4 linked regions of the Homo sapiens genome follow. The protein of the gene in region 2 interacts with the protein of the main gene of each other region in a biochemical or structural test. Each region holds a gene or a part of one and is shown on either strand. Other genes may lie near its edges.

What was found.
Region 1: of the proteins of USP4 (region 2) and MAP3K7, one has a biochemical effect on the other in vitro, tested with the Homo sapiens proteins (2 studies listed by BioGRID).
Region 3: the proteins of USP4 (region 2) and PRPF3 form a complex in vitro, tested with the Homo sapiens proteins (one study listed by BioGRID).
Region 4: of the proteins of USP4 (region 2) and PDK1, one has a biochemical effect on the other in vitro, tested with the Homo sapiens proteins (one study listed by BioGRID).

What each region holds. Positions count from the first base shown.
Region 1 is NC_000006.12:90,577,050-90,584,077, forward strand, and holds part of MAP3K7 (mitogen-activated protein kinase kinase kinase 7), read right to left. Parts: intron 1-7,028. UniProt on the Homo sapiens protein: Serine/threonine kinase which acts as an essential component of the MAP kinase signal transduction pathway. Plays an important role in the cascades of cellular responses evoked by changes in the environment.
Region 2 is NC_000003.12:49,330,026-49,337,053, forward strand, and holds part of USP4 (ubiquitin carboxyl-terminal hydrolase 4), read right to left. Parts: intron 5,572-7,028; coding exon 5,444-5,571; intron 1-5,443.
Region 3 is NC_000001.11:150,338,510-150,345,537, reverse strand, and holds part of PRPF3 (U4/U6 small nuclear ribonucleoprotein Prp3), read right to left. Parts: intron 5,141-7,028; coding exon 5,061-5,140; intron 3,509-5,060; coding exon of another isoform or gene 3,495-3,508; exon of another isoform or gene 3,386-3,494; intron 2,230-3,385; coding exon 2,086-2,229; intron 1,377-2,085; coding exon 1,277-1,376; intron 1,163-1,276; exon of another isoform or gene 1,105-1,162; coding exon 991-1,104; intron 1-990. UniProt on the Homo sapiens protein: Plays a role in pre-mRNA splicing as component of the U4/U6-U5 tri-snRNP complex that is involved in spliceosome assembly, and as component of the precatalytic spliceosome (spliceosome B complex).
Region 4 is NC_000002.12:172,594,063-172,601,090, forward strand, and holds part of PDK1 ([Pyruvate dehydrogenase (acetyl-transferring)] kinase isozyme 1, mitochondrial isoform 2 precursor), read left to right. Parts: intron 1-1,766; coding exon 1,767-1,907; 3' UTR 1,908-7,028. UniProt on the Homo sapiens protein: Kinase that plays a key role in regulation of glucose and fatty acid metabolism and homeostasis via phosphorylation of the pyruvate dehydrogenase subunits PDHA1 and PDHA2.

The sequences.
Region 1 (7,028 bases), on a different chromosome or scaffold from region 2:
TATGTAAATAGAGACCCATTAGGAAGCCATTACAGCAGTCCAAACAAGCAACAATAGCTACGAGGGCAAGGTCAATGGTAGTGCAGAAACTGGGCAGATCTGGGAAATGTTTTAGAAGTAGAGTCAATAGGGTTTGCTGATGCTCTGCATCCAGGCAGGACAGGTGTAGAGGAAAAGAGCTGAATCAAGGAAAACACCTAGACTGGACAACAGTTTACTGAGGGATAAGAATGATGCAGATTTTTTTTTAATAACTCAGAGTTTGGTTTTAGTCATATGAAGTTTAAGATGCCTACTGGATATCCAAGAGGAGATATCAAGTAAGAAGGTAGAAACGTGAGTGAGAGGATCTATGGAGAAGTCAGACAAAGAGATACAAACTTGGGAGTCATTAGCATGTAGTCAGTTTTTCTAGTCAATCAGTTGGAAGAGGTAACCAAAAATAATATGGAGATAGTGGAGTAGAGGAACTGAGCTTTGAAGCAGTTCAACATTTAGATCACAAGAGAGGAGAAGGAATGGGCAAGGAACAGGAAGGAACAGTCAATATGGTAGCAGGCAAACTAGGAGAGAGTCAGAGAAGCCAAAAGAAAAAGACGTTCCAGAAGGAAAGCAGATATAAGGACAGTGAAAGCATATGCCAGTGGCTCTAAAAGTGTGGTCTCCGGTTCAGCAGTATCAACATCACCTGGATATTTATTAGAAATATAAATTCTCAGGGTGCAACCCAGAATTATAGAGTCTGACGGTAAGGCCAAGCAATCCATGTTTTACCAAGCCCTCCAGGTAGTTTCAATGTTTGAAAATCACTGCATTCAAGGCTAATCCATTAACAACAGATAATAAGGCAAGATATTTCAGTGGAAGCCATCACACAGACCAGAGAGCTCTCCCTTGCTGTTTATATTATTTGTGGAAGCTTTCCACAGCACCCATATGTCATCTTGGGCAGGAGAAAGGGAAAAGGAAAATCCTTATGGGGGAAGACTGAATTTTGAAATAACCGAATTAATCTTGAAATTTCTGAGTACAAAGATACATAAAAGAGGTAAGTATTACATGGAAATTATCCTTGTTGTGGCAAGATTAAATGCTTTTCTCTACTGAGTTGAAAAGAGGAATGACTCATAATTAAACAGTAGTTTATAGAAAAATAGTTACATTTCTTAACTTTTAAAAACAAGTAAGAAATACCGGCAGGAGGACAGGAGTTTGTTTTGTTTTGTTTTGTTTGTTTTTTTGAGACAGGGTCTCACTCTGTTGCCCATGCTGGAGTGCAGTGGCGCGATCTCAGCTCACTGCAGCCTCTGCCTCTCTGGCTGAAGTGATTCTCCTGCCTCAGCCACCCCAAAGTAGCTGGGATTACAGGCTTGTGCCACCACACCCAGCTAATTTTTGTATTTTTAGTAGAGTCGGGGTTTTGCCATCTTGTCCAGGCTGGTCTTGAACTCCTGAGCTCAGGCGATCTGCCTGGGTTGGCCTTCCAAAGTGCTGGGATTACAGGCGTGAACCACTGCACCTGGCCAGAGACAGGAGTTTTGTGCTTTAAACAAAAAAGAGTATAAGCATATATCCATAAGAGTAGAAGATAGAATAATCAGATGATATATACAATGGATAAAGTTGTTTCCTGGTATATTTTGCTCTCCTTCCCCCCATTCTGATATTAGCTCTCTAAGGGAGAAGTCTGAATGGGAATTAGAGGTGGCAGAAGGTGCTACGTAGCATAAAAAAAGCTTCCCAGGGCATTCCAATATACTTCTCATTCCTTTCTTCAAGAAATAACATTTTAAAGAAATGCAATTTTATTATCTGTATAACGATAATGCAACCTTATATTTAACAATATATTACAACTTGTAAAGCTCTTTCTTACAAATATGATGGAGTTTGAGTGTCACCATAAACCCATGAATATATAGGATTTTTTATTCCTACCTTAGAGAGAAGAAAACCAAGGCTCCAAGAACTGAAGTTACCTATTCAAGGATCATGTAATTAGTAAATCAGAGTCAGCTTTCAGGTATGTTTCATGGTGCCAACAAAACAGAGGCCTGCCAGGATTTGGTCCAGTGCCTGGTACAGAGAAAAATGCTACTCAAAGGCAGCAAGTATGATAACTAACAACAATTAACTTTTCAAAAGATTATATTCGAATCAGATTTTAGCTGTTTAGAAGGGGGTTTTAAAAAGCCCTAATCTCCTTTAAGAAAAGAGTGAAGTTGGGTTAATAGAAGGCTTGTGTATAAAGGGCTTATGGCAGTCTCCAAAGATGGCTGTCAACAATCCCTTCTCTGCCTGTCTCTGCTTAAGAGTTCTATTTTAGCCTCCTTCACTGATTCTTCCTTCCTCTGTCCAAACCTTAGATGTTGCTACTTTCCAGGGTTCTGTCCTTGGCCCTTTTGTTTCTGAATCTGTTCTCTAATCTCATGGATTCATACTCTCAAATCTCTCCCATCCAGGTTTTTTGCCCAAGCTCAAGATATATTTAAAACTGCCTTTGAGACTAAGGGGTCCTACAGGCTTATTAAGTTCAATATGTCAAATACTGACTCCATTATCAGTCCCTCACTTGTGTATATTGTAGTTTACTTGACCTTAGTTAAGTAGATTTACAGATATTATCTCATTTTAATTAAGTCAATTCTCACATTTTAGAAAGGTTTTATTTAGAAAGTACTTATTGCAACTTGAGCCATGATCAAATGATAGTATGAAACCTTTCATCTCCCATTGTTTAAAAATACCGACTTCATACATACACACTGAAAACTGAGTATACAAAATAGAAAGTGTTTTGTTTTACCAGTGGGAGACAGACAAACAAAAAATTGTGGACACCACCGCTCCAACAGGAAACGCTGGTTAAGAAAGTTCATTACTGTCTGCACTCCACCTCTCAGGCTATGTAAAACAGCACTCCACTGACTGGGGAAAATCTTACATGTGTATAGATTTTTAAAAAATATATCACATATTTCTAAGAAAATGTTTCAAATGCAAATATCTTGGTAACAAATTTCCTTATTGTATTAATCAAGAACATAAAATCGTGGAGAAGATCAGATGTAGAATAATAGTATGTCTGGACTGCAAAGGCCAAGCCTAAAAACACATAAGGAGATTATGTACATTATTAGATAAGGAATGAGCCAATGTTACAAACTACAGAAAGCAAATTTGATATTTTTCTTGACATATGGTAGATCAACAGAAAAAAAGTGGCATAGATGGCCACTCTTGAGACATACTGGCAACTGAGGTAAACAATGAAAAAACTTAATATTCAAGTTGTAAACCACTGAAAGAAGGCCACTTTTTATTTACTACCAAATTTCTAGTCCAAGTTCACAAATCAAACGTGCTTTCTGAACCGTATTCTTTTCTGAATAATACAGTTTATTTGACACACTGTAATTAACAATTAGGTTTTTTGTTTTTTAAAATTTTTTATAGAGACAGGGTCTCACTATGTTGCCCAGACTCGTCTCAAACTCCTGGCCTCATACAATCTCCCACCTTGGCCTCCCAAAGTGTTGGGATTACAGGTGTGAGCCACCGTACCTAGCCCAACATTATTTTAAATGACTGTTTTTTCCCCAAAGATGAATTTTCATCAAGAGTAAAAAAGAGAACATATCAAGTTACAAGTATTTCCCCATCACACACATCCAACTAAAATGGTGACATACAAATAAATATTTCAGATATTCTTCATAATCCTTCATTTGTAAAAAACAGAGGAATGCAAAAAGGACTTTGGTTTTAAAAGGGAGGTCAATTTGGAAATATTTCCTTCTAAATTTATGAATGTTTTCTAAATCAAAATGTTTTTGATTAATTACTTTATGATAAGCATTTCTCCCCCTATGGTTGAAACCTCTTTGTTTTGGGTCTACAACTTTAGTCTCATACAATTAAGTAGATTTAAATTTAATTTCTTAATAAAAAATACAGAAGAATATGAGATGGTATATAGAACATTTCCATGCAACTACTATTGAAAGGCACAAAAACAAAAATCAGGTTTTGTGTGTTTGTGTGTTATTTTTAAAGAAATTCCTTTAAAAATTAATTTCTTTATGATGTAAGATGACTCCATTCCTTCAGACAAGTCATGTTAAAGAAAACAACCAAACACACACCTAACCTAAATGGAAAAGGATGTATGCCTTTGTGCTCTTAATTTATTATTAAATAATTCTTTTAATTGTTCTGAATTCATGTTATTTTTAGTTCAGTGACTACAGCTGTCAGTTTCATTTGGCCCTGTTCTATGAACTATCTGAATGGACCCCTGGTGATGCTGGCATTGTTCTGGCTGGAAATGCGGAACAAGACAGAACAAGCATAGATCATACATTTATTAGTTAGGACTTGGAGCCTCCAACTATGTTAGAACTTCAATATCTATTAATAAACTGTGGCAGAGTGGAACTGCCATCTGCTGACAAGATGGATTTGATAACATAAAAGTAAAGCTTTGATTATTCAAACTTTCTTCTGAATGTTTCATGCAGTCTTTTAATACCTGCCACAGTACATCTCACCCATTTTCTAGGCTTTTATTTCAAATAATATGCTCATGCTATCTTTTAAGCTACACGTGTACAATGCAAAAATTATCTCTGTAGCTACCTCTTAACTATAGTAATTCCAGATTTCTACTGAAATCAGTGGTCACTTTCACATGAAAGAATGTATTGATTATTTTAGGTATCCATAATTAAATAGTGACTAACAAATCTATGTACTCAGTTTGTTTAGACCACTATAAATTAGGTTTTTCTCTAATACCAATTCCCCATATATTTATAACTTAAACCTACAAAGTACATATAACTGTTTAAGTTCTATCTATATCTCCTCTTTGTAGCATATTTTAGCTTTTAAAACAAAACTTTTGTGTGTCTCCTTAACAAAGCTGAAGAATATATACAAATGCTGCAGTAATTTTATGTGTCCAATACTATAGCTTTGTTCCTACACTATAGTTGAGGTCAGCATTATGGGTCTCCCTTTTCAAAAGCAACCATTGTAAATAGTGTCTTTTTAGCACTCTGTAGTAAAGACCTACCATACGTGGCTTACTCATAGCATCTGGCCCTTTACAGCATTTTTTATCCCTGCTAAACAAAAGTATCTGCTAACTATAATAGAGTCGACATTAAAACAAGACTCGGATCTCATTTCTAACGTGTTGCCTTAGCCAAATCGCATAACTCAGCTCCTATTTTATCACATGTAATATAAGAGAACAAGATGGGCATTTAATTCTTATGATTATGCTGTGATACTTTCATGTACTCATTGAACAAATATGTATAGAGAACCTTCTAGGTTCTAGGCATTGGGGTTACAAAAGTGAATAAAGCGCCTTACATTTTGCTGAAGGAGAGACACAATTTCAGTTACTGGTAAGTACCATGAAAGATAATAGAAATGACAAAAGATCTAGGTTGTTCAGGGAATGCTTCTCTAAGGAAGTGTTAATAACATTTGAGGTGGGACTTGACTGGTGAGGAGTCAGTCATCTTAAGTTATGGGGGAACAGCGCTTTAGGCAGAGGAACAACTACAAAGAAAATTCATCTTAGTGACTTTCCCAACCCACGATGGTCACTTTATTCAAAACCTAGTTTTAAACTTGTCCCTACTCAATGGAACCTTCTGTGATTAACTCTATTTTCAAATTATGGCTTAAGTGTTTAATTTACACTATATTCAGTTTTAAATTTGTGGTCTATAGTTAACTGTTCTGTGTTTACTCCAGTCTGATATCATACTAAGTCAGACATTTTAAGGAGGTAATCCTAGGATTCTTCTATCATCTTTTTTTTTTTTTTTTTTTTGAGACAGAGTCTCCCTCTGTTGTCCAGGCTAGGGTGCGGTGGCATGATCTCAGCTCACTGCAACCTCTGCCTCCTGGGTTCAAACGATTCTCATGCCTCAGCCACTCAAGTAGCTGGGATTACAGGCCTGTGCCACCACACCCAGCTAATTTTTGTACTTTCAGTAGTGACGGGGTTTCTCCGTGTTGGCCAGGGTGGTCTTGAACTCCTGGCTTCAAGTGATCTGCCCGCACTGGCCCTCCAAAGTGCTCGGATTACAGGTGTGAGCCACCGCACCAAGCCCTATTTATCTTTTATAGTACCTCAGAGTATTACGCACAGATGAGAATGTTCATTAAATGCTCAGGACCAACTACACTAAAAAGGAAATCAGTATTTTGTTTCCCCTTTCCCATATTAGGTTTGGTTATAGAGTACTTCAGAAAGTACTGAGTGACACTGTAAATCCAGTGGAAAGGGCAACTGACTCACAAGTGAGAAGTCTCATATTCAATTCCCAGCTTTACCATTTACTTAGGCATGCGGCTTCTGGCAAGTCAAACTCTATGACTGCTTGTCAATATCTGTACAATGGGATATCATTTGCCCTGTCAACCCAGGATTAGTTGGTCACCAACTGAATTCTATAGGAGACCATGATCAGTCTTTAAAGAACTGCTAAGCTTACTATAGAAAACAGTTAAATACTGGAAAACATGAATGTGTTTTCATTTTAGAACTGGAAAAGACCTTAAATGATCTTGTTCAGTCAGTTTACATGAGTAACCACAGGCCCAGAAAAATGTGGTGACTTCCTCAAAGTTACAAAAATATATTATGGCAGAATCAGTACAGCATCTAAATTTTCTTTTTCAGTCCAGAACACTTTCCACTATACTACCCTGTGTAACACTTCTTGCAACCCATCCCCTCTTTTATTCCAACATTCTCTACAGCCAGTTCTAGATGGTAAACACTAAATGATGTTTAAAAAGTACCTAGGCAGATTTCTGAGGCTGAGACCTTACCTAATTTGACTGAATTGAATTGAATCTAAGATGTGCCAAACTAATACTACTGAGTTACAATATTAGAAATGCAAGATCAGCTAATGTCTTAGAAATATGTATCTACTAAATGGCTGCATATTTGGCCTGTAGTTGAATTATTATTTTTTTTACAGTTTCTAATTATATTG
Region 2 (7,028 bases):
CTACTCAGGAGGCTGAGGCAGGAGAATTACTTGAACCTGGTAGGAGGAGGCAGGAGAATTGCTTGAACCTGGGAGGGAGAGGTTGCAGGGAGCCAAGACTGAGCCACTGCACTCCAGCCTGGGCAACAGAGTGAGACTCTGTCTCAAAACAAACAAACAAACAAACAAACAAACAAAAAAAGTTGAAATTACTTCTTGACTCACAGGCTGCAGAACGGATGTTTTTAGTAGGCATGAAACAACATTAATCTCCTCATGCATCTCCATCAGAGCTCTTGGGTAACTAGGTACATTGCAATGGAGCAGTAACTTTTTTTTTTTTGAGACAGTCTCGCTGTGTCCCCCAGGCTGGAGTGCAGTGGCGCCATCTCGGCTCACTGCAAGCTCCACCTCTCGGGTTCATGCTATTCTCCCGCCTCAGCCTCCCGAGGAGCTGGGACTACAGGCACCCGCCACCACACCCGGTTAATTTTGTTTTTGTATTTTTAATAGAGACAGGGTTTCACCATGTTAGCCAGGATGGTCTCAATCTCCTGACCTCGTGATCCGCCCACCTTGGCCTCCCAAAGTGCTGGGATAACAGGCGTAAGCCACTGCACCTGGCAGCAGTAACATTTTGATAAGATTAGCTCAGTGCTTTTTCTGAGCAGTAGGTCTCAACCCTGAGCTAAAAATATTGGGAGGCTGGAGGCTGGAGGCCGGAGGCCGGGCGCGGTGGCTCCCACCTGTAATCCCAGCACTTTGAGAGGCCGAGATGGGTGGATCACGAGATCAGGAGATTGAGACCATCCTGGCCAACATGGTGAAACCCCGTCTCTACTAAAAATACAAAAAAAGTAGCCGGGTGTGGTGGCAGGCACCAGGCGCCTGTGATCCCAGCTACTCAGGAGGCTGAGGCAGGAGAATCGTGTGAACCCGGGAGGCGGAGCTTGCAGTGAGCCGAGATCGCGCCACTGCACTCCAGTCTGGGTGACAGAGCAAGACTCCGTCTCAAAAAAAAAAAAAATATTGGGAGGCCGGGCGTGGTGGCTCACACCTGTACTCCCAGCACTTGGGGAGGCCGTGGTGGGCAGTTACCTGAGGTCGAGAGTTCGAGACCAGCCTGACCAACAAGGAGAAACCCCGTCTCTACTAAAAAAACAAAATTAGCTGGGCGTGGTGGCGCACGCCTATAATCCCAGCTACTCAGGAGGCTGAGGCAGGAGAATCGCTTGAACCTGGGAGGCAGAGGTTGTGGTGAGCCAAGATCGCACCATTGCACTCCAGCCTGGGCAAAAGAGCAAAACTCCGACTCAAAAAAAAAAAAATCGGTAAACTTGTTGTGGTGGCTCATGCCTGTAATCCCAGCACTTAGGGAGGTCAAGGCGGGTGGATCACTTGAGGCCAGGAGTTTGAGACCAGCCTGGCCAAAATAGCAAAACCCCATCTCTACTAAAAGTACAAAAATTAGCCAGAACTGGTGGTGCATGTCTGTAATCTCAGCTACTTGGGAGGCTGAGCCATGAGAATAACTTGAACCCGGGAAGCAGAGGTTGCAGTAAGCCGAGATTGCACCACTGCATTCCAGCCTGGGCGACACAGCGAGATTCTGTCCCAGAAAAATAAAATAAAAACAAAAATATTCGGTATACCATGCTGTAAATAAATATGCTATCATGCAGGCTTTGTTGTTGCATGTGTAGGGCACAGGCAGAGCAGATTTAGCATAATTCTTGAGGGCCTTGGGATTTTTGGAATGATAAATGAGCACTAGCTTCAAACTAAAGTCACCATCTGCAGTATCCCTTAAGAAGAGAGTCAGCCTGTCCTTCAAGGCTCTGAATCTGGCCGGACAGAGTGGCTCATGCCTATAATCCCAGCACTTTGAGAAGTCAAGGCAGACAGATCACTTGAGCCCAGGAGTTGGAGACCAGCCCGGGCAACACGGCAAAATCCCATCTCTACAAAAAAAAAAAAAAAATACAAAGCTGGGCACAGTGGCTCACACCTGTAATTCCAGCACTTTGGGAGGTCAAGGCGGGTGGACCACCTGAGGTCAGGAGTTCGAGACCAGGCTGGCCAACGTGCTGAAATCCCGTCTTTACTAAAAATACAAAAAAAAATTAGCTGGGTGTGGTGGCAGGTACCTGTAATCCCAGCTACTTGGGAGGCTGAGGCAGGAGAATCACTTGAAACTGGGAGGTGGAGGTTGCAGTGAGCCAAGATTGTGCCATTGCACTTCAGCCTAGACGACAGAGCGAGACTCTGTCTTACAAAACAAACAAACAAACAAACATATAAAAATCAGCCAGGCATGGTGGCAAGCAACTGTAGTCCTAGCTACTCAGGAGGCTGAGGTGGGAGGATCACTTGAGCCCAGGAGGTTAAGGCTGCAGTGAGCTGTGATCACACACTACAGCCTGGGTGACAGGGCAAGACCCTGTCTCAAAAAAAAAAAAGGCTCTGAACCCAGGCACTGACTTTTCCCCTCTAGCAGCAAAGAGGTAGATGGCATCTTCCCAATAGAAGGGTGTTTTGTCTACATTTAAAATCTGTTGTTTAGGCCAGGCACAGTAGCTCATGCTTGTAATCCCAGCACTTTGAGAGGCCGAGGCAGGCGGATCACTTAAGGTCAGGAGTTTGAGACCAGCCTGGCCAACATGGTGAAACCCCATGGTGAGACTCTGTCTCAAAAAAATAATAATAATAAATAAAAATAAAATAAAATAAAACCTGTTGTTTAGCCTGGGCACAGTGACTCACACCTGTAATCCCAGCACTCTGGGACGTCAAGGCGGGAGGATTGCTTGAGCCCAGGAATTCAAGATCAACCTGAACAACATGACAAAACCCACAAAAAATCTCTGCAAAAAATACAATAATTAGTCGAGTGTGGTGGGGCCTGTAGTTCCAGTTACTCAGGAGGCTGAGATGGGAGGATCACCTGAGCCTGGGAAGGTCAAGGTTGTAGTGAGGTGTGATTGTGCTACTGCACGAGGTAGCAGTAGCTACCTTTTTTTTTTTTGAGACAAGATGGCACCTTGTCTCAAAAAAAAAAATAAATGAATAAACTTTCTCCATATCAGCAATAATAAGGCTGTTTCAGCCTCTTATAATTCATGTGTTCACTAGAGTAGCACTTTTTTTTTTTTTTTTTGAGATGGAGTCTCACTTCTGTCGCCCAAGCTGGAGTGGAGTGCAGTGGCGCAATCTCAGCTCACTGAAACCACCATTTCCTGGGTTCCTCCATCTCCCAGGCAACATGACAAAACTCCATCTCTACAAAAAGAAAAAATAAACACATACAAAAATGAGCCAGGAATGCTGGCAAGCACCTGTAGTCCTAGCTACTCAGGAGGCTGAGGTGGAAGGATCACTTAAGTCCAGGAGGTTTACATTTACATTCACAACTTGGCTAGCTATATGGCACAAGAGGCCTAGCTTACAACCTATTTCGGCTTCCTTAACCAAACTCAAATCATTTCTAGCTTTGATTTGAAGTGAGAGACATGCAATTCTCCTTTTCACTTGAACATTTAGAAGACGTTGTTAGGGTTACTAAGTGGCCGAATTTCAGTGTCATTGTGTCTCAGGCAATAGCAAAGCCTGAGGAGAGAGAGAGAGATGGAATGGCTGGTTGGTGAAGCAGCGAGAATACACACAATAATTACCAATTAAGTTCACTGTCTTACATGGGCTCCCTTCATGATGCCCCAAAACAATTACAATAGCAACATGAAAGATCCCTGTTGGCTGGGCATGGTGGCTCATGCCTGTAATCCCAGCACTTTGGGAGGCTGAGGTCGGGAGTTCAAGACCAGCCTGACCAACATGGAGAAACCCCATCTCTACTAAAAATACAAAATTAGCCGGGCGTGGTGGCACATGCCTGTAATCCTAGCTACTCGGGAGGCTGAGGCAGGAGAATCACTTGAACCCAAGAGGTGGAGGTTGCCATGAGCCACGATCATGCCACTGCACTCCTGCCTGGGCAACAAGAGCAAAACTCCGTCTCAAAAAAAAAAAGAAAGCTCCCTGATCACTGATCACCATAACAAATAATAATGAAAAACTTTGAAGTATTTTGAGAATTACCAAAATGTGGTAACAGAGACATGAAGTGAGCACATGCTGTTGTAAAAATGGAACTGACAGATTGTCAAGGCAGCGTTGCCAAATACCTACAAAATTTGCTAAAAATGCAGTATCTGCAACATATAATAAAGCAAAGCACAATAAGCCAAAGTATGCCTGAATTTAAAACCTTAAGAATTCTCCATTTCATAAAAATGAGAAAAAGAACAAAATGTGAACATAATGAAATGATTCCTTAGGGCAACTTCGTGGCATAGTGCCACCATTTGACCTATTTCAGGAAACAAAGTAAATGATATTGTTTATACCATGTAGACCTCTCCTAAAACAAGGTCTGAGCTGAAGCATTGCTCAGTTTTAAAAATATCCAAGTTAGGCCAGGCACAGTGGCTCACACCAACACTCTGGGAAGCCAAGGTGGGAGGATGGCTTGAGGCCAGGAGTTCAACCAGCCTGGGCAACATAGCAAGACCCCGTCTCTACCAAAAAACTTAAAAAACAGCTGAGAGTGGTAGAACACTGTAGTCTCAGTGACTAAGGAGGCTGAGGCAGGAAGATAGCTTGAGCCCAGGAGCTCAAGGCCAGCCTAGCCAACATGGTAGAGACGGGGTTTCACCATGTTGGCCAGGCTGGTCTCGAACTCCTGACCTCAGGTGATCCACCTGCCTTGGCCTCCCAAAGTGCTGAGATTACAGGCGTGAGACACCACTCCTGGCACTGCCCTGATTTTTGACACCCATGACAGATCACCTCTATCATGACTTTAAAGAGGTCTGAAGTCAGGCAAAAGAAAGCCTGGGAAAAGCTGACTCTGTCATCTCAGTGCATGTACAAGTGCAAGCAAGCTCTAGTGTGTTACATGTCGCTTTTCCCACAGTTCCCATTGGGAGCTGACTACAGTCATAACTCTGTCTACTGACCTTCAACCTCTCCTCACACTAGTTATATGATAAAAACAGCCATCACAGGAATTCTTGATGAAAGTTCACAGGTTTACAATTTGTTCCACTGCAAAGGTAACAAAAAATTCTGGTTCTTAAATTTTAGATACAATTTCAAAATGACATCCTATTTCTTTCCATTCCATATACTAACTTAAAATGTGAAATAGCTAGCAGAACTAATTTGCAAAGAGAGAAAGTTAAAATGTTAGAAGCATACTCTTATCAGATGCAGTTAATTTAAGGGAAAAAAGTAGCTTAACTTCTCATTAAGGGTTTGCAAAGACTTCTGCTATAGATGCAAAATGAGGATACTTGTTTCTATCTCCTCACACTAGGAAAGTTCACAACGTCCATGTTACAGATGCACATAACATCAGGCCACTGCCCAGGTGAATGTTTAGCTAGAAAAGCAACATTTACTATACCTGAAAATAGCCCAGAGTTGTCTATTGGGCCAGGAAATAGGTTATGTTCACCCACATTGTACATGTCCCAGCTGTCAAAGCCCACATACTTCTTCCACTGCTTGAACCACCGGCTGTCAATAAGATACCTAGAGAGAGACAGAAATTTACTGTAGCAGAAAAGCTGAGATTATAAATTTCTGCAGCTGCTTCCTTAATCTTTTTTATGGTCCTTCCACTTGGGGCATATGCAATACCCACTAAAAAACACTGTCACAAGAGCAAGAGCAGGGCCCAGGCCCCACATGGCACAGAGAGTCTGGCCCAGGGTATGCATCCATTAAGTGAAATGATTGTTCAAAGAGTGAATAAAAGAAAGAAAACAAGTGGTTTCAAAATGCTTATTTAAATGCAGTCTTTCTTTTTTTTTCTTTTAGACGGAGTCTTGTTCTGTCGCCCAGGCTGGAGTATAGTGACACAATCTTGGCTCACTGCAACCTCTGCCTCCCAGGTTCAAGCGATTCTCCTGCCTCAGCCTCCTGACTAACTGGGATTACAGGCACCTGTCACCACTCCCAGCTAATTTTTGTATTTTTAGTAGAGACGGGGTTTCACCATGTTGGGCAGGCTGGTCTCAAACTCCTGACCTCAGGTGATCCGCCTACTTCGGCCTCCCAAAGTGCTGGGATTACAGGCATGAGCCACTGCACCTGGCCTCTTTTTTTTTTTTTTTTTTTTTTGAGACGGAGTTTTCGCTCTTGTTGCCCAAGCTGGAGTGCAGTGGTATGATCTTGGCTCACTACAACCTCCACCTCCTGGGTTCAAGCAATTCTCCTGCCTCAGCCTCCCAAGTAGCTGGGATTACAGGCATGCATCACCAGGCCCAGCTAATTTTTTTGTATTTTTAGTAGAGATGGAGTTTCACCATGTTGGCCAGGCTGGTCTCGAACTCCTGATCTCAGGTGATCCTCCTGCCTTGGCCTCCCAAAGTGCTGTGATTACATGCATGAGCTACCACACTCAGTCTAAATGGAGTCTTTTCATGGGTAAAATCATGTTTGCTAATAAACAAGTCATTAACTTCTTTTTTTTTTGAGACAGAGTTTCGCTCTTGTTACCCAGGCTGGAGTGCAATGGTGTGATCTCGGCTCTCCGCAACCTCCGCCTCCCGGGTTCAAGTGATTCTCCTGCCTCAGTCTCCCGTAGCTGGGATTACAGGTGTGTGCCACCACACCTGGCTAATTTTGTATTTTTAGTAGAGACAGGGTTTCTCCATGTTGGTCAGGACAGTCTCAAACTCCCTACCTCAGGTAATCTGCCCACCTCGGCCTCCCAAAGTGCTGTGATTACAGGCGTGAGCCACCGCACCCGGCCACAAGTCATTAATTTCATAATGATCTTTACAGAAGTCCCACTCCAGGCAGACAGTTTGGTTACACTGTTTTGCTTGACATGAACAGCACTAAACTAATGCTCTTTCTGAAAATGGGTTAGAAACACCACCCACTTCAGTTTTCCTTTAAGGACCAAAGGAGTTCCAAAAATGTACACACAAGGCCAGGCGCAGTGGCTCACACCTGTAATCCCAGCACTTTGAGAGGCCGAG
Region 3 (7,028 bases), on a different chromosome or scaffold from region 2:
CTCTACTAAAAATACAAAAATTAGCCGGGCGTGGGGGTGCGTGCCTGTAATCCTAGCTACTCAGGAGGCTGAGGCAGGAGAATTGCTTGAACTTGGGAGGCAGAGGTTGCAGTGCGCTGAGATCGCGCCATTGCACTCCTGCCTGGGCAACAAGACTGAAACTCCGTCTCAAAATAAATAAATAAATAAATAAAATATATATATAGGATCACTATATAGGCATGAAAATTTTCTAGGAGGATATGTGAAAAACTGTTAATAGCAATTACCTAAAGAGAGTGGTTCTAAGGGATCAGAGAATAGAAAGGAGACATTTTGAGTAAGTATTCTTCTGTGTTGTCAGACAATTTTTTAAATCTTAATAAGCATTCACTATTTTTGTGATAATGTACCACTTTTATAATAAAGAACTAGTTAATAGAAATAAGCACATTTTAAAAATAGAAGATACACATGTACTCAACATAAAAGAATAAAAACATTAAATCAACACAAAGGTAGAAAAATATTTACAACATATAAAATGCATTTTGGAGTGAGGATGAAACACAGCAATACATCAGGGTAAGGATATGACTACGGAGGAAAGAAAATTTGTAATGCTTCCATGGATGTTGGAAGCAAACTCAGACCATTTAAAAAAAAAAAGATGAAAAAAAAAAGAAATAGGATGATATTTTATAGTTCTCAAAGGACATACAATCTTTAGTTCACATCTTGGCCTGAACAAGTATATTGACTTGTTCAGAACTAATATTCTGGTAAAAAAAAAAAGAAGACTTGAGAGGGAAGAACTGGGTAACCATAAACATAAGTCATTAACTCTCGCTATTTTACAAGATTTACTAGCTCTTGATCCACACTAGGGTCATTAAAAGAGAGTAGGAACTGGTGTTAGGTATGCTTTTAGGCCACAATGATTCTGCCTCAAGCACTTGGAAAATGTTTTAGTAATTCTAAGGGGAAGTTTGGCCCAGTATGGACACCTACCTATATACAGATATGTGTACCCCCTGTGAAATGTCTTCTTTAAGCTTTTTAATTTTCTTGACCTTTCTCTGTTCTGCTGTGAGTTTTCGGGCAGCGTTGGCCTCTTCATGCGCTCTGTCGTGACAGGAAGGACATCCACAAGTGAGAAAGGCATTGAAGATCAGAGGCAGGGCTGAGGGAAAGAGAGAGCAACGGAGAACTCTCCCCTCCCTCCAAATATGGACCCCCCAGAAGAGTTTGGGAAAGGTACTTGCCCGAGGTTTCCACCCAATCCCATGGCACTTACTTCTGTCTTTTTGCCATCTGAGCTCTGACGTGGGCTTCTACCTTCGTGGGGTCTTGAACAGCTTCTGTTCCTAATACTCGCATCAAATTAGAAATTCTCACTGCAGTGAAGAGAGGACAACAATCAGTCTTTGAAGTCACTTCTCCAGCTGGAGTAACTTGTTATTTCTTCCATACCAATTCATATTATTTACCTATTTCAAATCTCTGCTCTAAACTCACTTCCTCCAATAACTCCTATCTTGAAAATCCCATCCAATCACTTCAGCATTTGCAGAAGTTCACACAATTAAGTTGAAGATTGGTATGCATTTACATTATCTGAAAATTTATGAAGGACGTGGAACTTAATTCCTTTCATATTTTTCACACTGATCACAGCATCTAGTGAAAGAGCTTATAAATAATAGTGCTCAGTCAAAATACTGCTGAACGAGAATGTAACTACAGGGTCAAGTTTTTTATCCTGTACTTTCATTGTAAAAATTAAAACATTAAGAATTATGTACATAAAAAGTCTACGCAAATACTGCAACTACTATCTCCATGAATTTCAAGACCTGTATTCTTCCAGGAAAACCAGAGTGTTGTATGATCAGTATGCTTAAAAATAAGCCATAAATGGCCTCTATAATGAATGTGTTGACCTATCTTAATATGAAAAGATGGTAGAAAACTTGGAGAAAAAGGACCCCAAGAATAATTCTTAGAAACAGAAATCACTCAAACACAGAGATGTTAAAGTTCCTCCAGGATTAAAGACATAAACTTGCCACTCTTTTTAACAGAAGAGGCCACTGAGAAATGCACCTTTGGGTTCTGGAGGAGGCATCAGGCCCAGCCTGACTTTTTCTTGTAGTTCCTTCTGTGCTTCCCTCCTTGTTTGTCTCCGAAGTTTTTTCTGTTCCTTCTTGGTAAGATATACTCCCAGAGTAACTGGTGTGTCATTGTCAACTGTCAGGCAGAGATATTAGTATACCAAAGCAGTAAGAATACATATATATATATATATATTTTTTTTTTTTCTCTCTCTCACTCTGTCACCCAGGTTGGAGTGCAATGGCACGATCTCAGCTCACTGTAGCCTCTGCCTCCTGGGTTCAAGTAATTCTCCTGCCTCAGCCTCCCGAGTAGCTAGGATTACAGGCACACGCCACCATGCCTGGCTAATGTTTGTATTTTTAGTAGAGATGGGGTTTCACCATGTTGGCCAGGCATGAGCCACCAGGCCCGGACAGCAATAAAAATATTAAAGAAACCTAGGTAAATATCAATATCATTAAAAGAAACTTTAGGCTGGACACAGTGGCTTATGCCTGTAATTCTAGCACTTTGATAGGCCAAGGTGGGAGGATGGCGTGAGCCCAAGAGTTCGAGACCAGCCTGGACAACCAAGTGAGACCCAACTCTATTATAAACATTTTATGTAAAAAATATATTGAGGCCAGGTGCGGTGGATCACACCTGTAATCCCAGCACTTTGGGAGGCACGGGTGGGCAGATCACGAGGTCAAGAGATCGAGACCAGCCTGGCCAACATGGTGAAACCCTGACTCCACTAAAAATACAAAAATTAGCTGGGCGTGGTGGCACGCACCTGTAGTCCCAGCTACTCGGGAGGCTGAGGCAGGAGAATCACTTGAATCCGGGAGGTGGAGGTTGCAGTGAGCCGAGATTGTGCCACTTGCCACTGCACTCTAGCCTGGCAACACAGCGAGACTCCATTTCAAAAAACATGTGTGTGTGTGTGTGTGTGTATAAACTTTAAATAGAAAATGAAGAAAACTCGTTAATAAGGGATCAGTAAGATTAAAATCAGTTCAGGCCTGGTGCCCGGCAATATGGCTATGTTTTTAAAAAACATTCTTATCTTTCCTTTTGTTGAGACGGAGTCTCGCTCTGCTGCCCAGGCTGGAGTGCAGTGGCGCAATCTCAGCTCACTGCAAGCTCTGCCTCCTGGGTTCACACCATTCTCCTGCCTCAGCCTCCTGAGTAGCTGGGACTACAGGCACCCGCCACCACGTCTGGCTAATTTTTGTATTTTTAGTAGAGACGGGGTTTCACCTTGTTAGCCAGGATGGTGTTGATTTCTTGACCTCGTGATCTGCCCGCCTCGGCCTCCCAAAGTGCTGGGATTACAGGCATGAGCCACCTCGCCTGGCCTCTTATCTTTCTTAAGTAGTGTTCTTAGTTGTTTTCCTTTAAGCTGTTAAACCCCCTCATTCAATGATACCTGGCAAATGTAGAAAACAAAATTAGGGCCAGGTGCGGTGGCTCACGCCGGTAAACCCAGCACTTTGGGAAGCCTAGGTGGGCAGATCACTTGAGGTCAGGAGTTCAAGACAAGCATGACCAACATGGCAAAACCCTGTCTCTACTAAAAGTTCAAAAACTAGCCAGGTGTGGTGGCAGGCACCTATAATCCAAGCTACTCCGGAGGCTAAGGCCGGAGAATAGCTTCAACCCAGGGGGGTGAAAGTTGCAGTGAACGGAGATAGTGCCATTGCACTCCAGCCTGGGTGACAAAAGCGAAACTCCAACTCAAAAAAAAAAAAAAGGCCGGGCGCGGTGGCTCACACCTATAATCCCAGCACTTTGGGAGGCCAAGGCTGGCAGATCACCTGAGGTCAGGAGTTCAAGACCAGCCTGACCAAACATGGTGAAACCCTGTCTCTACTAAAAATACAAAATTAGCTGGGCGTGGTGGCACATGCCTGTAATCCCAGCTACTCAGGAGGCTGAGGCAGGAGAATTGCTTGAACCCAGGAGGCAGAGGTTGTGGTGAGCTGAGATCATGCCGTTGCACTGCAGCCTGGACCACAAGAGCGAAACTCCTCCTCAAAAAAAAAAAAAAAAAAAAAATAGAAGCAACTTTGTTTCCCAGTTTCAACTTTGGGAAACTAACAAAAAGCCCTTTGGAATTAGCATCCCTCACAGTGGGTAGTGGAGCATATCGCATCTAATAACACACCAACCCAAGAGTTTGGCTCTTGCATTTGCATTTAGCTGTGGATGCCACAACAACATGTGGTTCTATAAAAGGAGCAAGCTGAGGGCTCTTTCCTAGGAACAACCAGGGAACTGTAAATGTAAAGCTTCATGAAATTTTGGGTTTTTTTCTTTCTTTCTTTCTTCTTTTTTTTTTTTTTTTTTTTTTGAGACAAGGTCTGGCAGTATCATCCAGGCTGGAGTGCAGCAGCACCATCTCAGCTCACTGCAACTTCCACCTCCCAGGCTCAAGCCATCCTCCACACCTCAGCCTCCCAAGAGGCTGGGACTACAGATGCACACCACCATGCCCGGCTGATTTTTTATTTTTTGTAGAGATGGGGTTTTGCCATGTTGCCTAGATCTCGAACTCCTGAGCTCAAGCAATCTGCCCACCTCAGCCTCCCAAAGTGCAGTGATTACAGGCATAAGCCACCATACCCAGCCAAATTTTTTTTCCTTGAGATGGGTCTCACTGTGTTGCCCAGACTGGTCTTGAATTCTTGGCCTCAAGCAATCCTCCTGCCTTGGCCTCCGAAAGTGTTTGGATTAGAGGCATGAGCCACCATGCTTGGCTGTCTCATGAAATTCTAAGCACAGGAATATGCACTTAAAATGTATGTTCACTGGTCAAACAACAAACTATTGTCAGGAAAAAAACTGAATTAAAAAAAAGAATTACACATGGGTAGTGGCTATTGTATTGAACAGCATAGATACAGAACATGTTCCTCACTGTATAAATTTCCAATGGGTAATGCTGCTCTAGAGACTTGATTCAGGAATCTATACATTACCTGGAGGATTGAGCTGGGCTGGATGTTCAACAAGATTTGTGATTCCAAAATAATCTTCTCTCTTGGGATTTTCCTCTGTACTAAAATTGTAGGAAGAAAAGAAAACACGATATGCGGGTAGAGATGATTCTAAGAGAGGAGTCTCAGAAATACAATGAAAAAACCCACTCTCTATAATGGGTTCTTGTGCTTGATATACCTAAAATAGCATTTAGGTACCTAAAATATATAGTTAAATTACACATAATTTTCATGATGAGAAAACTGAGTCCCTCTATGGTTGAACACACTCTCCACAGCAATCATTCTCAACCTTTTTTCTACCATGCCACAGCTGACAGACGCTATGTTCTCTCATTAGTGACAATAAGTCCCTGGAACAGTGGCTGACAAAGAAGGGGCAACGAAAGGCTAAGACAAAATCTACTAAAGCCATGTATCAGAATGATGGAGCAGGGCCAGGTGATGTGGCTTATGCCTATAATCCCAGCACTTTGGGAGATGAAGGCAGGTGGATCACCTGAGGTCAGGAGTTTGAGACCAGTTTGGCCAAATAGTGAAACTCTTGTCTACTAAAAATATAAAAACTGGCCAGGTGTGGTGGTATTTGCCTGTAGTCCCGGATACTTATGAGGCTGAGCTAGAAGAACTGCTTCAACCCAGGAGACAGAGGTTGCAGCGAGCCGAGATTGTGCAACAGAGTGAGACTCTGTCTTAAAAAAAAAAAAAAAAAAAAAAAACGCCAGGCGTGGTGGCTCATGCCTGTAATCCCAGCCCTTTGGGAGGCTGAGGCGGGTGGATCACCTGAGGTCGGGAATTTGGGACCAGCCTGACCAACATGGAGAAACCTCGTCTCTACTAAAAACACCAAAAATTAGCCAGGCGTGGTGGTGCATGCCTATAATCTCAGCTACTTGGGAGGCTGAGGCAGGAGAATCACTTGAACCCAGGAGGCGGAGGCTGTGGTGAACCAAGATTGCTCCACTGCACTCCAGCCTGGGCAACAAGAGCGAAACTCCGTCTCAGGAAAAAAAAAAAAAAAATGGATGGAGCAGATATATTTAAAGCTCTTCAAATGTGTCTTATATCCTTTTTTTTTTTGAGACAGAGTTTCACCCTGTTGTCCAGGATAGAGTGCAGTGGTCATGATCATAGCTGACTGCAGCACAGACCCTCCTGGGCTCAAGTGATTCTCTCACATCAGCCTCCTGGGTAGCCAGGACTACAGGCACAAGCCACCATGCCCAGCTACTTTTTTTTTTTTTTTAATCTTTGTAGAAACGAGGTCTCACCATATTGCCCAAGCTGGTCTTTAACTCCTGGGCTCAAGCAATCCTTCAGCCCTCAGCCTCCCAAAGTGCTGGAATAACAGGTGTCAGCCACCGAGCCCAGCCTTATATGCTATATTTACTATTATCTCACCTACCAACTAATAATCCTTGCTCTATCACAATGAGATCTTTAGGAAATGTAAACACCTATAATACGTAGCAAAAGAATGTAATTAAGGAAAATAATGCTAAAAACAGGCAACAATGTGTAACAGAGCAAAAAGAATTCTAGACTTTGCTTTTGTAGATTGTGTCCCTGGTTATCCTACATTAACCCCAAAAGCTAAAAACAGCCTATATATATGATACATCACTTACAAATGCAGGAGCTTGGCCAGGTGCAGTGGCTCACGCCTGTAATCCCAGCACTTTGGGAGGCTAAGGTGGGCGGATCACCTGAGGTCAGGAGTTCGAGACCAGCCTGGCCAACATGGCAAAACCCTGTCTCTATCAAAAATACAAAAAGCAGATGGGCATGGTGGCACACACCTGTAGTCCCAGCTACTTGAGGGGCTGAGATTCAAGGAGAATTCAAGGAGAATCTCTTGAACCCGGGAGGTGGAGGTTGCAGTGAGCTGAGATCGTGCCACTGCACTCCAGCCTGGGTGACAGAGCGAGACTCCCTCTCAAAAAAAAA
Region 4 (7,028 bases), on a different chromosome or scaffold from region 2:
TCTTGCTCTGTGTCACGTAAGCTGGAGTGCAATGGCATGATCTCGGCTCACTGCAACCTCCGCCTCCCGGGTTCAAGCTGTTCTCCTGCCTCAGCCTTCCGAATAGCTGGGATTACAGGCGCCTGACTAATTTTGTATTTTTAGTAGAGATGGGGTTTGACCACGCTGGCTAGGCTGATCTCGAACTCCTGACCTCAGGTGATCCGCTTGCCTTGGCCTCCCAAAGTGCTGGGATTACAGGCATGAGCCACCACACCTGGCCTAGTGCAATGTTTTTATGACAAAATGTAACATTTTGATCTAGCCCAGGAGTGTCCAATCTTATGGCTTCCCTGGGCCACAGTGGAAGAACAGCTGTCTTGTGCCACACATAAAATACACTAATGATAGCTGATGAGCTTAAAAAAGATTGCACAAAAAAAAATCTCATAATGTTTTAAGAAAGTTTACAAATGTGTTGAGCTTCATTCAAAGCCATCCTGGGCCGCATGCAGCCTGTGGGCTGTGGATTGGACAAGCTTGATCTAGCCTGTAGATCAAGAAATTCTGGAATATTTAGAGAAATATGGAGGTGAAAGGTTTTTTGTTCTACCTTAGGGAAAATAGAAGATAAGAAGTCTTAGAGAATCATTAAAATTGTCAACATCAAAGACTTTAGCATTATCAGAATGAGATTTTCTTGTTCAGGGTGTTCTGCATCTTAGGAAATGCCTTTGGCCTGGGATGGAAATACTACTGAAAAATCCTAACTTGAAGAAGATAACTAGAAATGTAGTTTATCTCAGGTTCCAGTGACTTATAGGAAGCTGAAATACAATGGAGAATTACTGGTAATAATATATGGAAAACTGAAATCATGCATGATGCAGAAATCTTGTGCACAGTGACTGAAATTGGAGGCCGGAGAAGACACAGATTCAAACCCAGGGCCAATAAATGTTCACGAAAAAGCTAAGATGCCTTAGACATAGATTTCTATTTATTAATAATGTTATAATGAGTTTTTAAATTTTTATGTATTTATAGAGTCAATATCTTGCTTTGTTGCCAGGCCGGAGTGCAGTGGTACAATCATAATTCACTACAGCCTTGAACCCCTGGGCTTCAAGTGATCCTCCTCTCTCAGTCTCCCAAGTAGTTAGGACTACACCCATGTGCCACCATGTCCAGCTGATATTTTTATTTTTTGTAGAGACAGGATCTTGCTATGTTGCCCAGGCTGGTCTCCAACTCCTGAGCTCAAGCAATCTTCCTGTGTAAGCCTCCCAAAGCACTGGGATTATAGGCATAAGCCACCGTGCCTGGCTTGTGATGAGTTTTTTTTAAAGCACAGTGACTATGCTGAAAAAAACACTATTTCTTCTAGTAAATAATTAAAATAGAGTTCATTAAATTTATGTGCATCTATTAAGATACATATATCGATTTGTATGCTTTTACATTTAACCAACTTCTTCAGTTAGCCAACTCTGATCTGGGTCATGTTTTGTGTAAAATTTCAGTCCAGCAGCTTCCAGGATGGCTGGGGAATTACTGTAAGCAACAAACTCAGTCAACCTGCACATCAGTCAGTGCCATAGATTTCATAAATAACACGTTTCAAATATACATACCATTTAAAAGTATATTTAGGTGGTATAAGGATTAATAAGATACTAATAGAATATTATTTAATTTGTCGTAACCTTTTTGCCATTGTCTATTTTCTCAAATAATGAATTCTAAAAAATGCCAGACTTAATAGGTCTTAGGTTTTTCTTTTTCAGGCTCTGTCAACAGACTCAATAGAAAGACTCCCAGTGTATAACAAAGCTGCCTGGAAGCATTACAACACCAACCACGAGGCTGATGACTGGTGCGTCCCCAGCAGAGAACCCAAAGACATGACGACGTTCCGCAGTGCCTAGACACACTTGGGACATCGGAAAATCCAAATGTGGCTTTTGTATTAAATTTGGAAGGTATGGTGTTCAGAACTATATTATACCAAGTACTTTATTTATCGTTTTCACAAAACTATTTGAGTAGAATAAATGGAAACTGAATTCCATTTGTGCCCGTTAAACCTCCTAAAGGATGAAATTGCACCTATTTTACACTTATATTTTCACAGTTAATTGAACATATTTTTAAACAACTGTAGTTTTGGGCAACTTTTCACTTTGTGGTAGACTTCAGAAGTGTGGAAATCTTCGGGTTTCTATAGGAAACTAGTTTTTTTTTTTTAAGAAATACTTTCATTTATGTTTGCTAGAAACATTTTCTAAATGATAGTGATTAGCTGGTTAGCCATCTTCCTGTTATTTGGAGGAGTTCTGCCATCTTTTATTCGGTAGTGACAGCTGTAATATGGTCTTCATGTTTATCAGTGACTTGACTACAAGTAAAGCAGAAAACAGTTGGCCTGTAATCACAGAACCAGCCACCCTTCGGCGTCTACATGCATTGTCTTAGCTCTGAGGTTAATTTACCATTTTTAAATTTTATTGTAAAGAAGTGTAATGACTAGCTCTCTGTGGATCTATGCCAAAATCATGGGCCATCTTTTCTAAGTGTACTTCTGATTAATGCAAGGGGAAATTTTTATACTGAAAACAAACAAACAAACTAGCAGCTACTAAAATAGAGAAGAAATTGAGGGCAAAGTAATATGTCTCCAAAACTGAACTGATTGCTTGTTGAGATTACCTAGAAAGCTTTTGGAAAAAAATAGAGCTTTTCTGCATCCTACTCCAGATACACTGAATCGGAATCCCTAGGGCTAGAGCCTAGAAATCTCACTTTTTAAAATGCTTCCAAGGTAAGTCTGATGCCTACCCTAGGTTGGGAACCACTCTTTCAAAGTAAACAGTGATGACACAGCATTTGCTAAAGTAACATCTGTAGGTTTTGGTTTCCACCTATTTAAAGTCAGATTTATAGACTCGAGGAGACAGAAACTGAATCCCACACCTGGTGCAATTAGAAGCATAATTAGAAGCAGAAGAACAAAATGCCACGTAACCAAAGCATCAGAGCCATCATTGCACGTGTCTTTTTTTCTTTTTTCTTTTTTTTTTTTCAAGACAGGGTCTCGCTCTTTTGCCCAGGATGGAGTACAGTGGCATGGTCAAGGCTCACTGCAGCTTCAATCTTCTGGGCTCAAGTAATCCTTCCACCTCAGCCTCCCATATAGCTGGAACTACAGTTGTGCACTACCACACCCAGCTAATTTTTTGATTTCTTGTGGAGATGAGGTCTCAGTATGTTCCCAGGCTAGTGTTGAACTCCTGAGCTCAAGAAATCCTCCTGCCTGAGTCTCTGAAAGTGCTGGGATTACAGGCGTGAGCCACCACACATGGCCTATTGCACAAGTCTTGACAAACAACATATATTTTCTAAAACTATCCAGATTTCATTATCAGGGAAAAGTTTGCTTAGGTTTATTACAGCAGTCCTTGGCATTTGTATGGTAATTTGTACTTTACAAATACTTTGATATATTATAACTCTATTGGTCTTTGAAACAAAGCGATACAGTGTAGGTGGTATCATTCTCTTTCTCACTCAGTGTGGCCCAGAGTTGCTCAGAATTGGAGCAGAGCCTGAGACGTATCTGCAGATCCTGTCATCAGCTGGCAAGTCCAGGAGACTGTGTCATTTAGAGACTGTGTTGTTAGTTATCCCTCAACATCTTCTAAGGTGGCAGGAAATAATATTGGAAATAACATTTTAAAGTAAAAATTTTAAAGTTTAAAGAAGAGTTTTGCCACTTAAACAGGGGAGCTTTGTCTGGAAAATACACTGAGTTGAAACACTTCATCCTTGGAAGGATTATATAAGATGAACAGTTGTGATAAATGTGTAGATTAGAGGGATGTGAATGGGCAGTTAGTCCAGTGCCCTCATTTAAGAGGCCAAGATCCTGATTCAGAGGAGGCATCCTTTGCCCAGAGCTGCTTAGCTAATCTGACCAAATGTTGGGAAAAATGTCTCACCTAACCCACTATTCCTTAATTATGGATTTTGTGAAAAACAATAGAACATGTTAATGAGTAATTTATATTAGTTCGATGTATTACAATTTTTTAGCTTTAAATTACAGTTTTCTTATAATGTTGAAATGTTTTAGAATCCTTTGAATCTAAGTATTTGTTTCCTAAATGAAACATTTGTACAACATTTGATGTTTTTACTTATGAAATATTCTCCTCCCCCAAGAAAATTTAAACTTTTTCTCTCTATTTAAAAGCTAAGAAATGTTTTAAAGGAAAAATGAAATTATCTTCCTTTAGCTTATTTTTAAGGTAAAACAGCTTTTTACTCTGTTATTGTGGTAATGGACAGAATATTACATACAAAAATATTCTGGGAGAGCTTTTTCCTAGTTGGTTTTAAATCATTGTGCCACCTGAAAGGTTTTTAGATTTTATAGGAGCTAATTTGTCCACCAGCATTAATGTAACACAGTGTAGTTATGAAAATATATTGAAGGACAGGAAGTGGACACGAAGTGATTTTTGTAACCTGAGCAGTTAATGAATGTGCCAACATTTTCTAGGAAGGGACAGCAAGAATATTCTGCTCTGTAGTTAAAATACTGGCTGGCTTTTGATGTCTTCATGCTTAATTGTGATCACTTTCTTGCACTGTGATGTTTTTACGTGAATATGTTGAAGTAGAAGTCTACCATATTATTTTATAAAATGTTTTCTGTATGGCAATAAACTGAAAACATGGATCAACCCTTCTTTTGAAAATAAACTGAGTCAATTTAGCCTTTTAAAAATATAGTCATCTCTTTTAAATAGAATCCTCTTCCACCATCAAGGCTCAACATTTTGTAAGCATCCAAAAAATTGGTAATTAGGGGGCTTGCACTAAATTTCACTATCTTCAGTAGAGAGGAACTGTTTGGAACTTAGATTTCCAATGTGTATATTCTAATGGAGAAAGCAAGAGGTAGAGTTTGTATGTTTGACTTACCTTAGATTTTTATTTTCCATACATACTGCAAATGATTGACTTGTTGCATAAATGAAGATCTTCTGTTGTGTGCTTTTCAAACACTGTAAATAAATTTGAAATTTGAATAACTTTCCACAGTATAACTGTAAAAAAAAAAAAAAAAAGTCTTAATTTAACCAGCATTACCCTCTGCTTGTACCAATTGAATGGCAGAACTACTATAGTCAAAAATAAATTCCTATCCTATTTTTAATTGATGGGATATAGGCAGCACAATTTCCCTTCATTGTTGAAGCCAACAAGTTCCGTAACAGAACTCCAGAGGTAAATAGCTGGGAAAACTGTTAGTTTTAAGGTCCCACTGTTGCTCTGTGAATGACTAATCAGAGGAAGCCAAAAATCAGCCAACTAATTTCAGTTTATGTCTTTAATTGTGATGTAAGTGTGAAGTTTCTACATATGGGTAATCAGGGTTGAGTTAGGTAGTTTGCAAACATGACTTTTGCTGGAGGAACTTTTAATCATGTCTTATTAATTTCTGGTCCCAATAATTAATTTTCTTACAGTCAAACCCAATGCACTTGAAAAATAATATAATTAATACTGTGTGAAGAATTTTTTGCATGTTAAAAAAAGCAAACCACTAGTTTGCTTAGTTCTGGCATTCATAAACTACTGTACCTTCTGTTCTATTGACATGTTTGGAAAAAAGAATTGAACATATGTACCACCCCCCTCTTTCTAGAGTCTCCACAGTTCTTTAGCAATTGCTAACCATAGGTTTTTAATAGCAAAAGACAAGATTGTCAGTTTTTGGTGCAAAACTCTACTCTTTTTGGTTGACTTGGAAAAGCTGTTGTTTATATTGGGAATTGTGACAGCTGTCTTTTACTTTGTTAAATTAGCAATTATTTAGCAAAAATACAGAGTTTCACCCCAGTAAAATAAACTTCCACGTGAGAGTTGTGTTCATTCAAGGGTTATTTTTTGAGAGTGGAAGTACATTTCCTGCATTTGTCACAGATAATATCAGAAATTTTGTTGTTTTGATTAAAATGTTGCCATCTACTTATAAGTTAAAAATGCTGAGAAGGTTTTTTTTGGAAACAGTTTATGAGGCCAGGACATTTTTAAGTTTGACTCAAATATAAAAAGCCACAGTATTCTTGCCATGGTTTTGTACTTAGATGTCTCTCATTATGGAATTCAGAATGTGACAGTTATAGTACTACATGAAAATACTTAATATAGAGTTCTACAGTTACAGTATTGCATGAAAATACAGTATGGTATGAAATTATTTGTCCAAAACTGTACTCCAGAAATGGAGCCCATATGATTATATAACTATAAAATAGGATGGGACAGAGAAAAATATGTCTGTATTACAGCATAAACATATCTGGTTTAATATGAACTATTTCTTTTCATCTCTTTACTCTCAGTATCTCCATAATGGCCAGTATGTAGTAGGCACCTGTAATTGTGAAGCAGCCTCATTGTCTGGGGTAAATACCAAGGTTCTTGGTCTCATGGCCAAGGAGATCGAGGTCGCAGACACACACAGTTTGGAGCAGGAGTTTAATAGGCAAAAGGAAACAGCTCTGTTACAGAGAGGGGTTCCGAGCAGGTTGCCAAGTTGTAGTAAAAATGTCAGGGTTTTTATAAATGGGCTAGTGAGGAGGGGGCTCATGAGGAGGGGATATCTTATCCTCCTAGGGTCCGAGGACGCTTTAGTTGGGACCAGGTGTGCTATCTGTACAGAGCATAGCTTTTTATCAGCTCTTATCCCATTCCTTGACCACATAGGCTCTTAGACTCTTATTCTATGTTGTCTTCGTCCAGCTTATCTGGAAGGGAGAGTTTCTCTGTCTGTTCCCATACATCTTGCAGCTGCAGGCATCCCCCCGGTCTGCTTTTAGCTTCCTTATCTTAGTGCCCCTAAAGGGAAAGGAATGTGCTTATTAAGGGCCACTGTTTTACTGGGGTTAACTGCATGAGGTCAAAAAGAGCTATATTTGAGCTGCTGTTTGTTAAAAGAAAAGTTTTCTGCCGGGGACTCGCTTTACCCTGTCTACCTA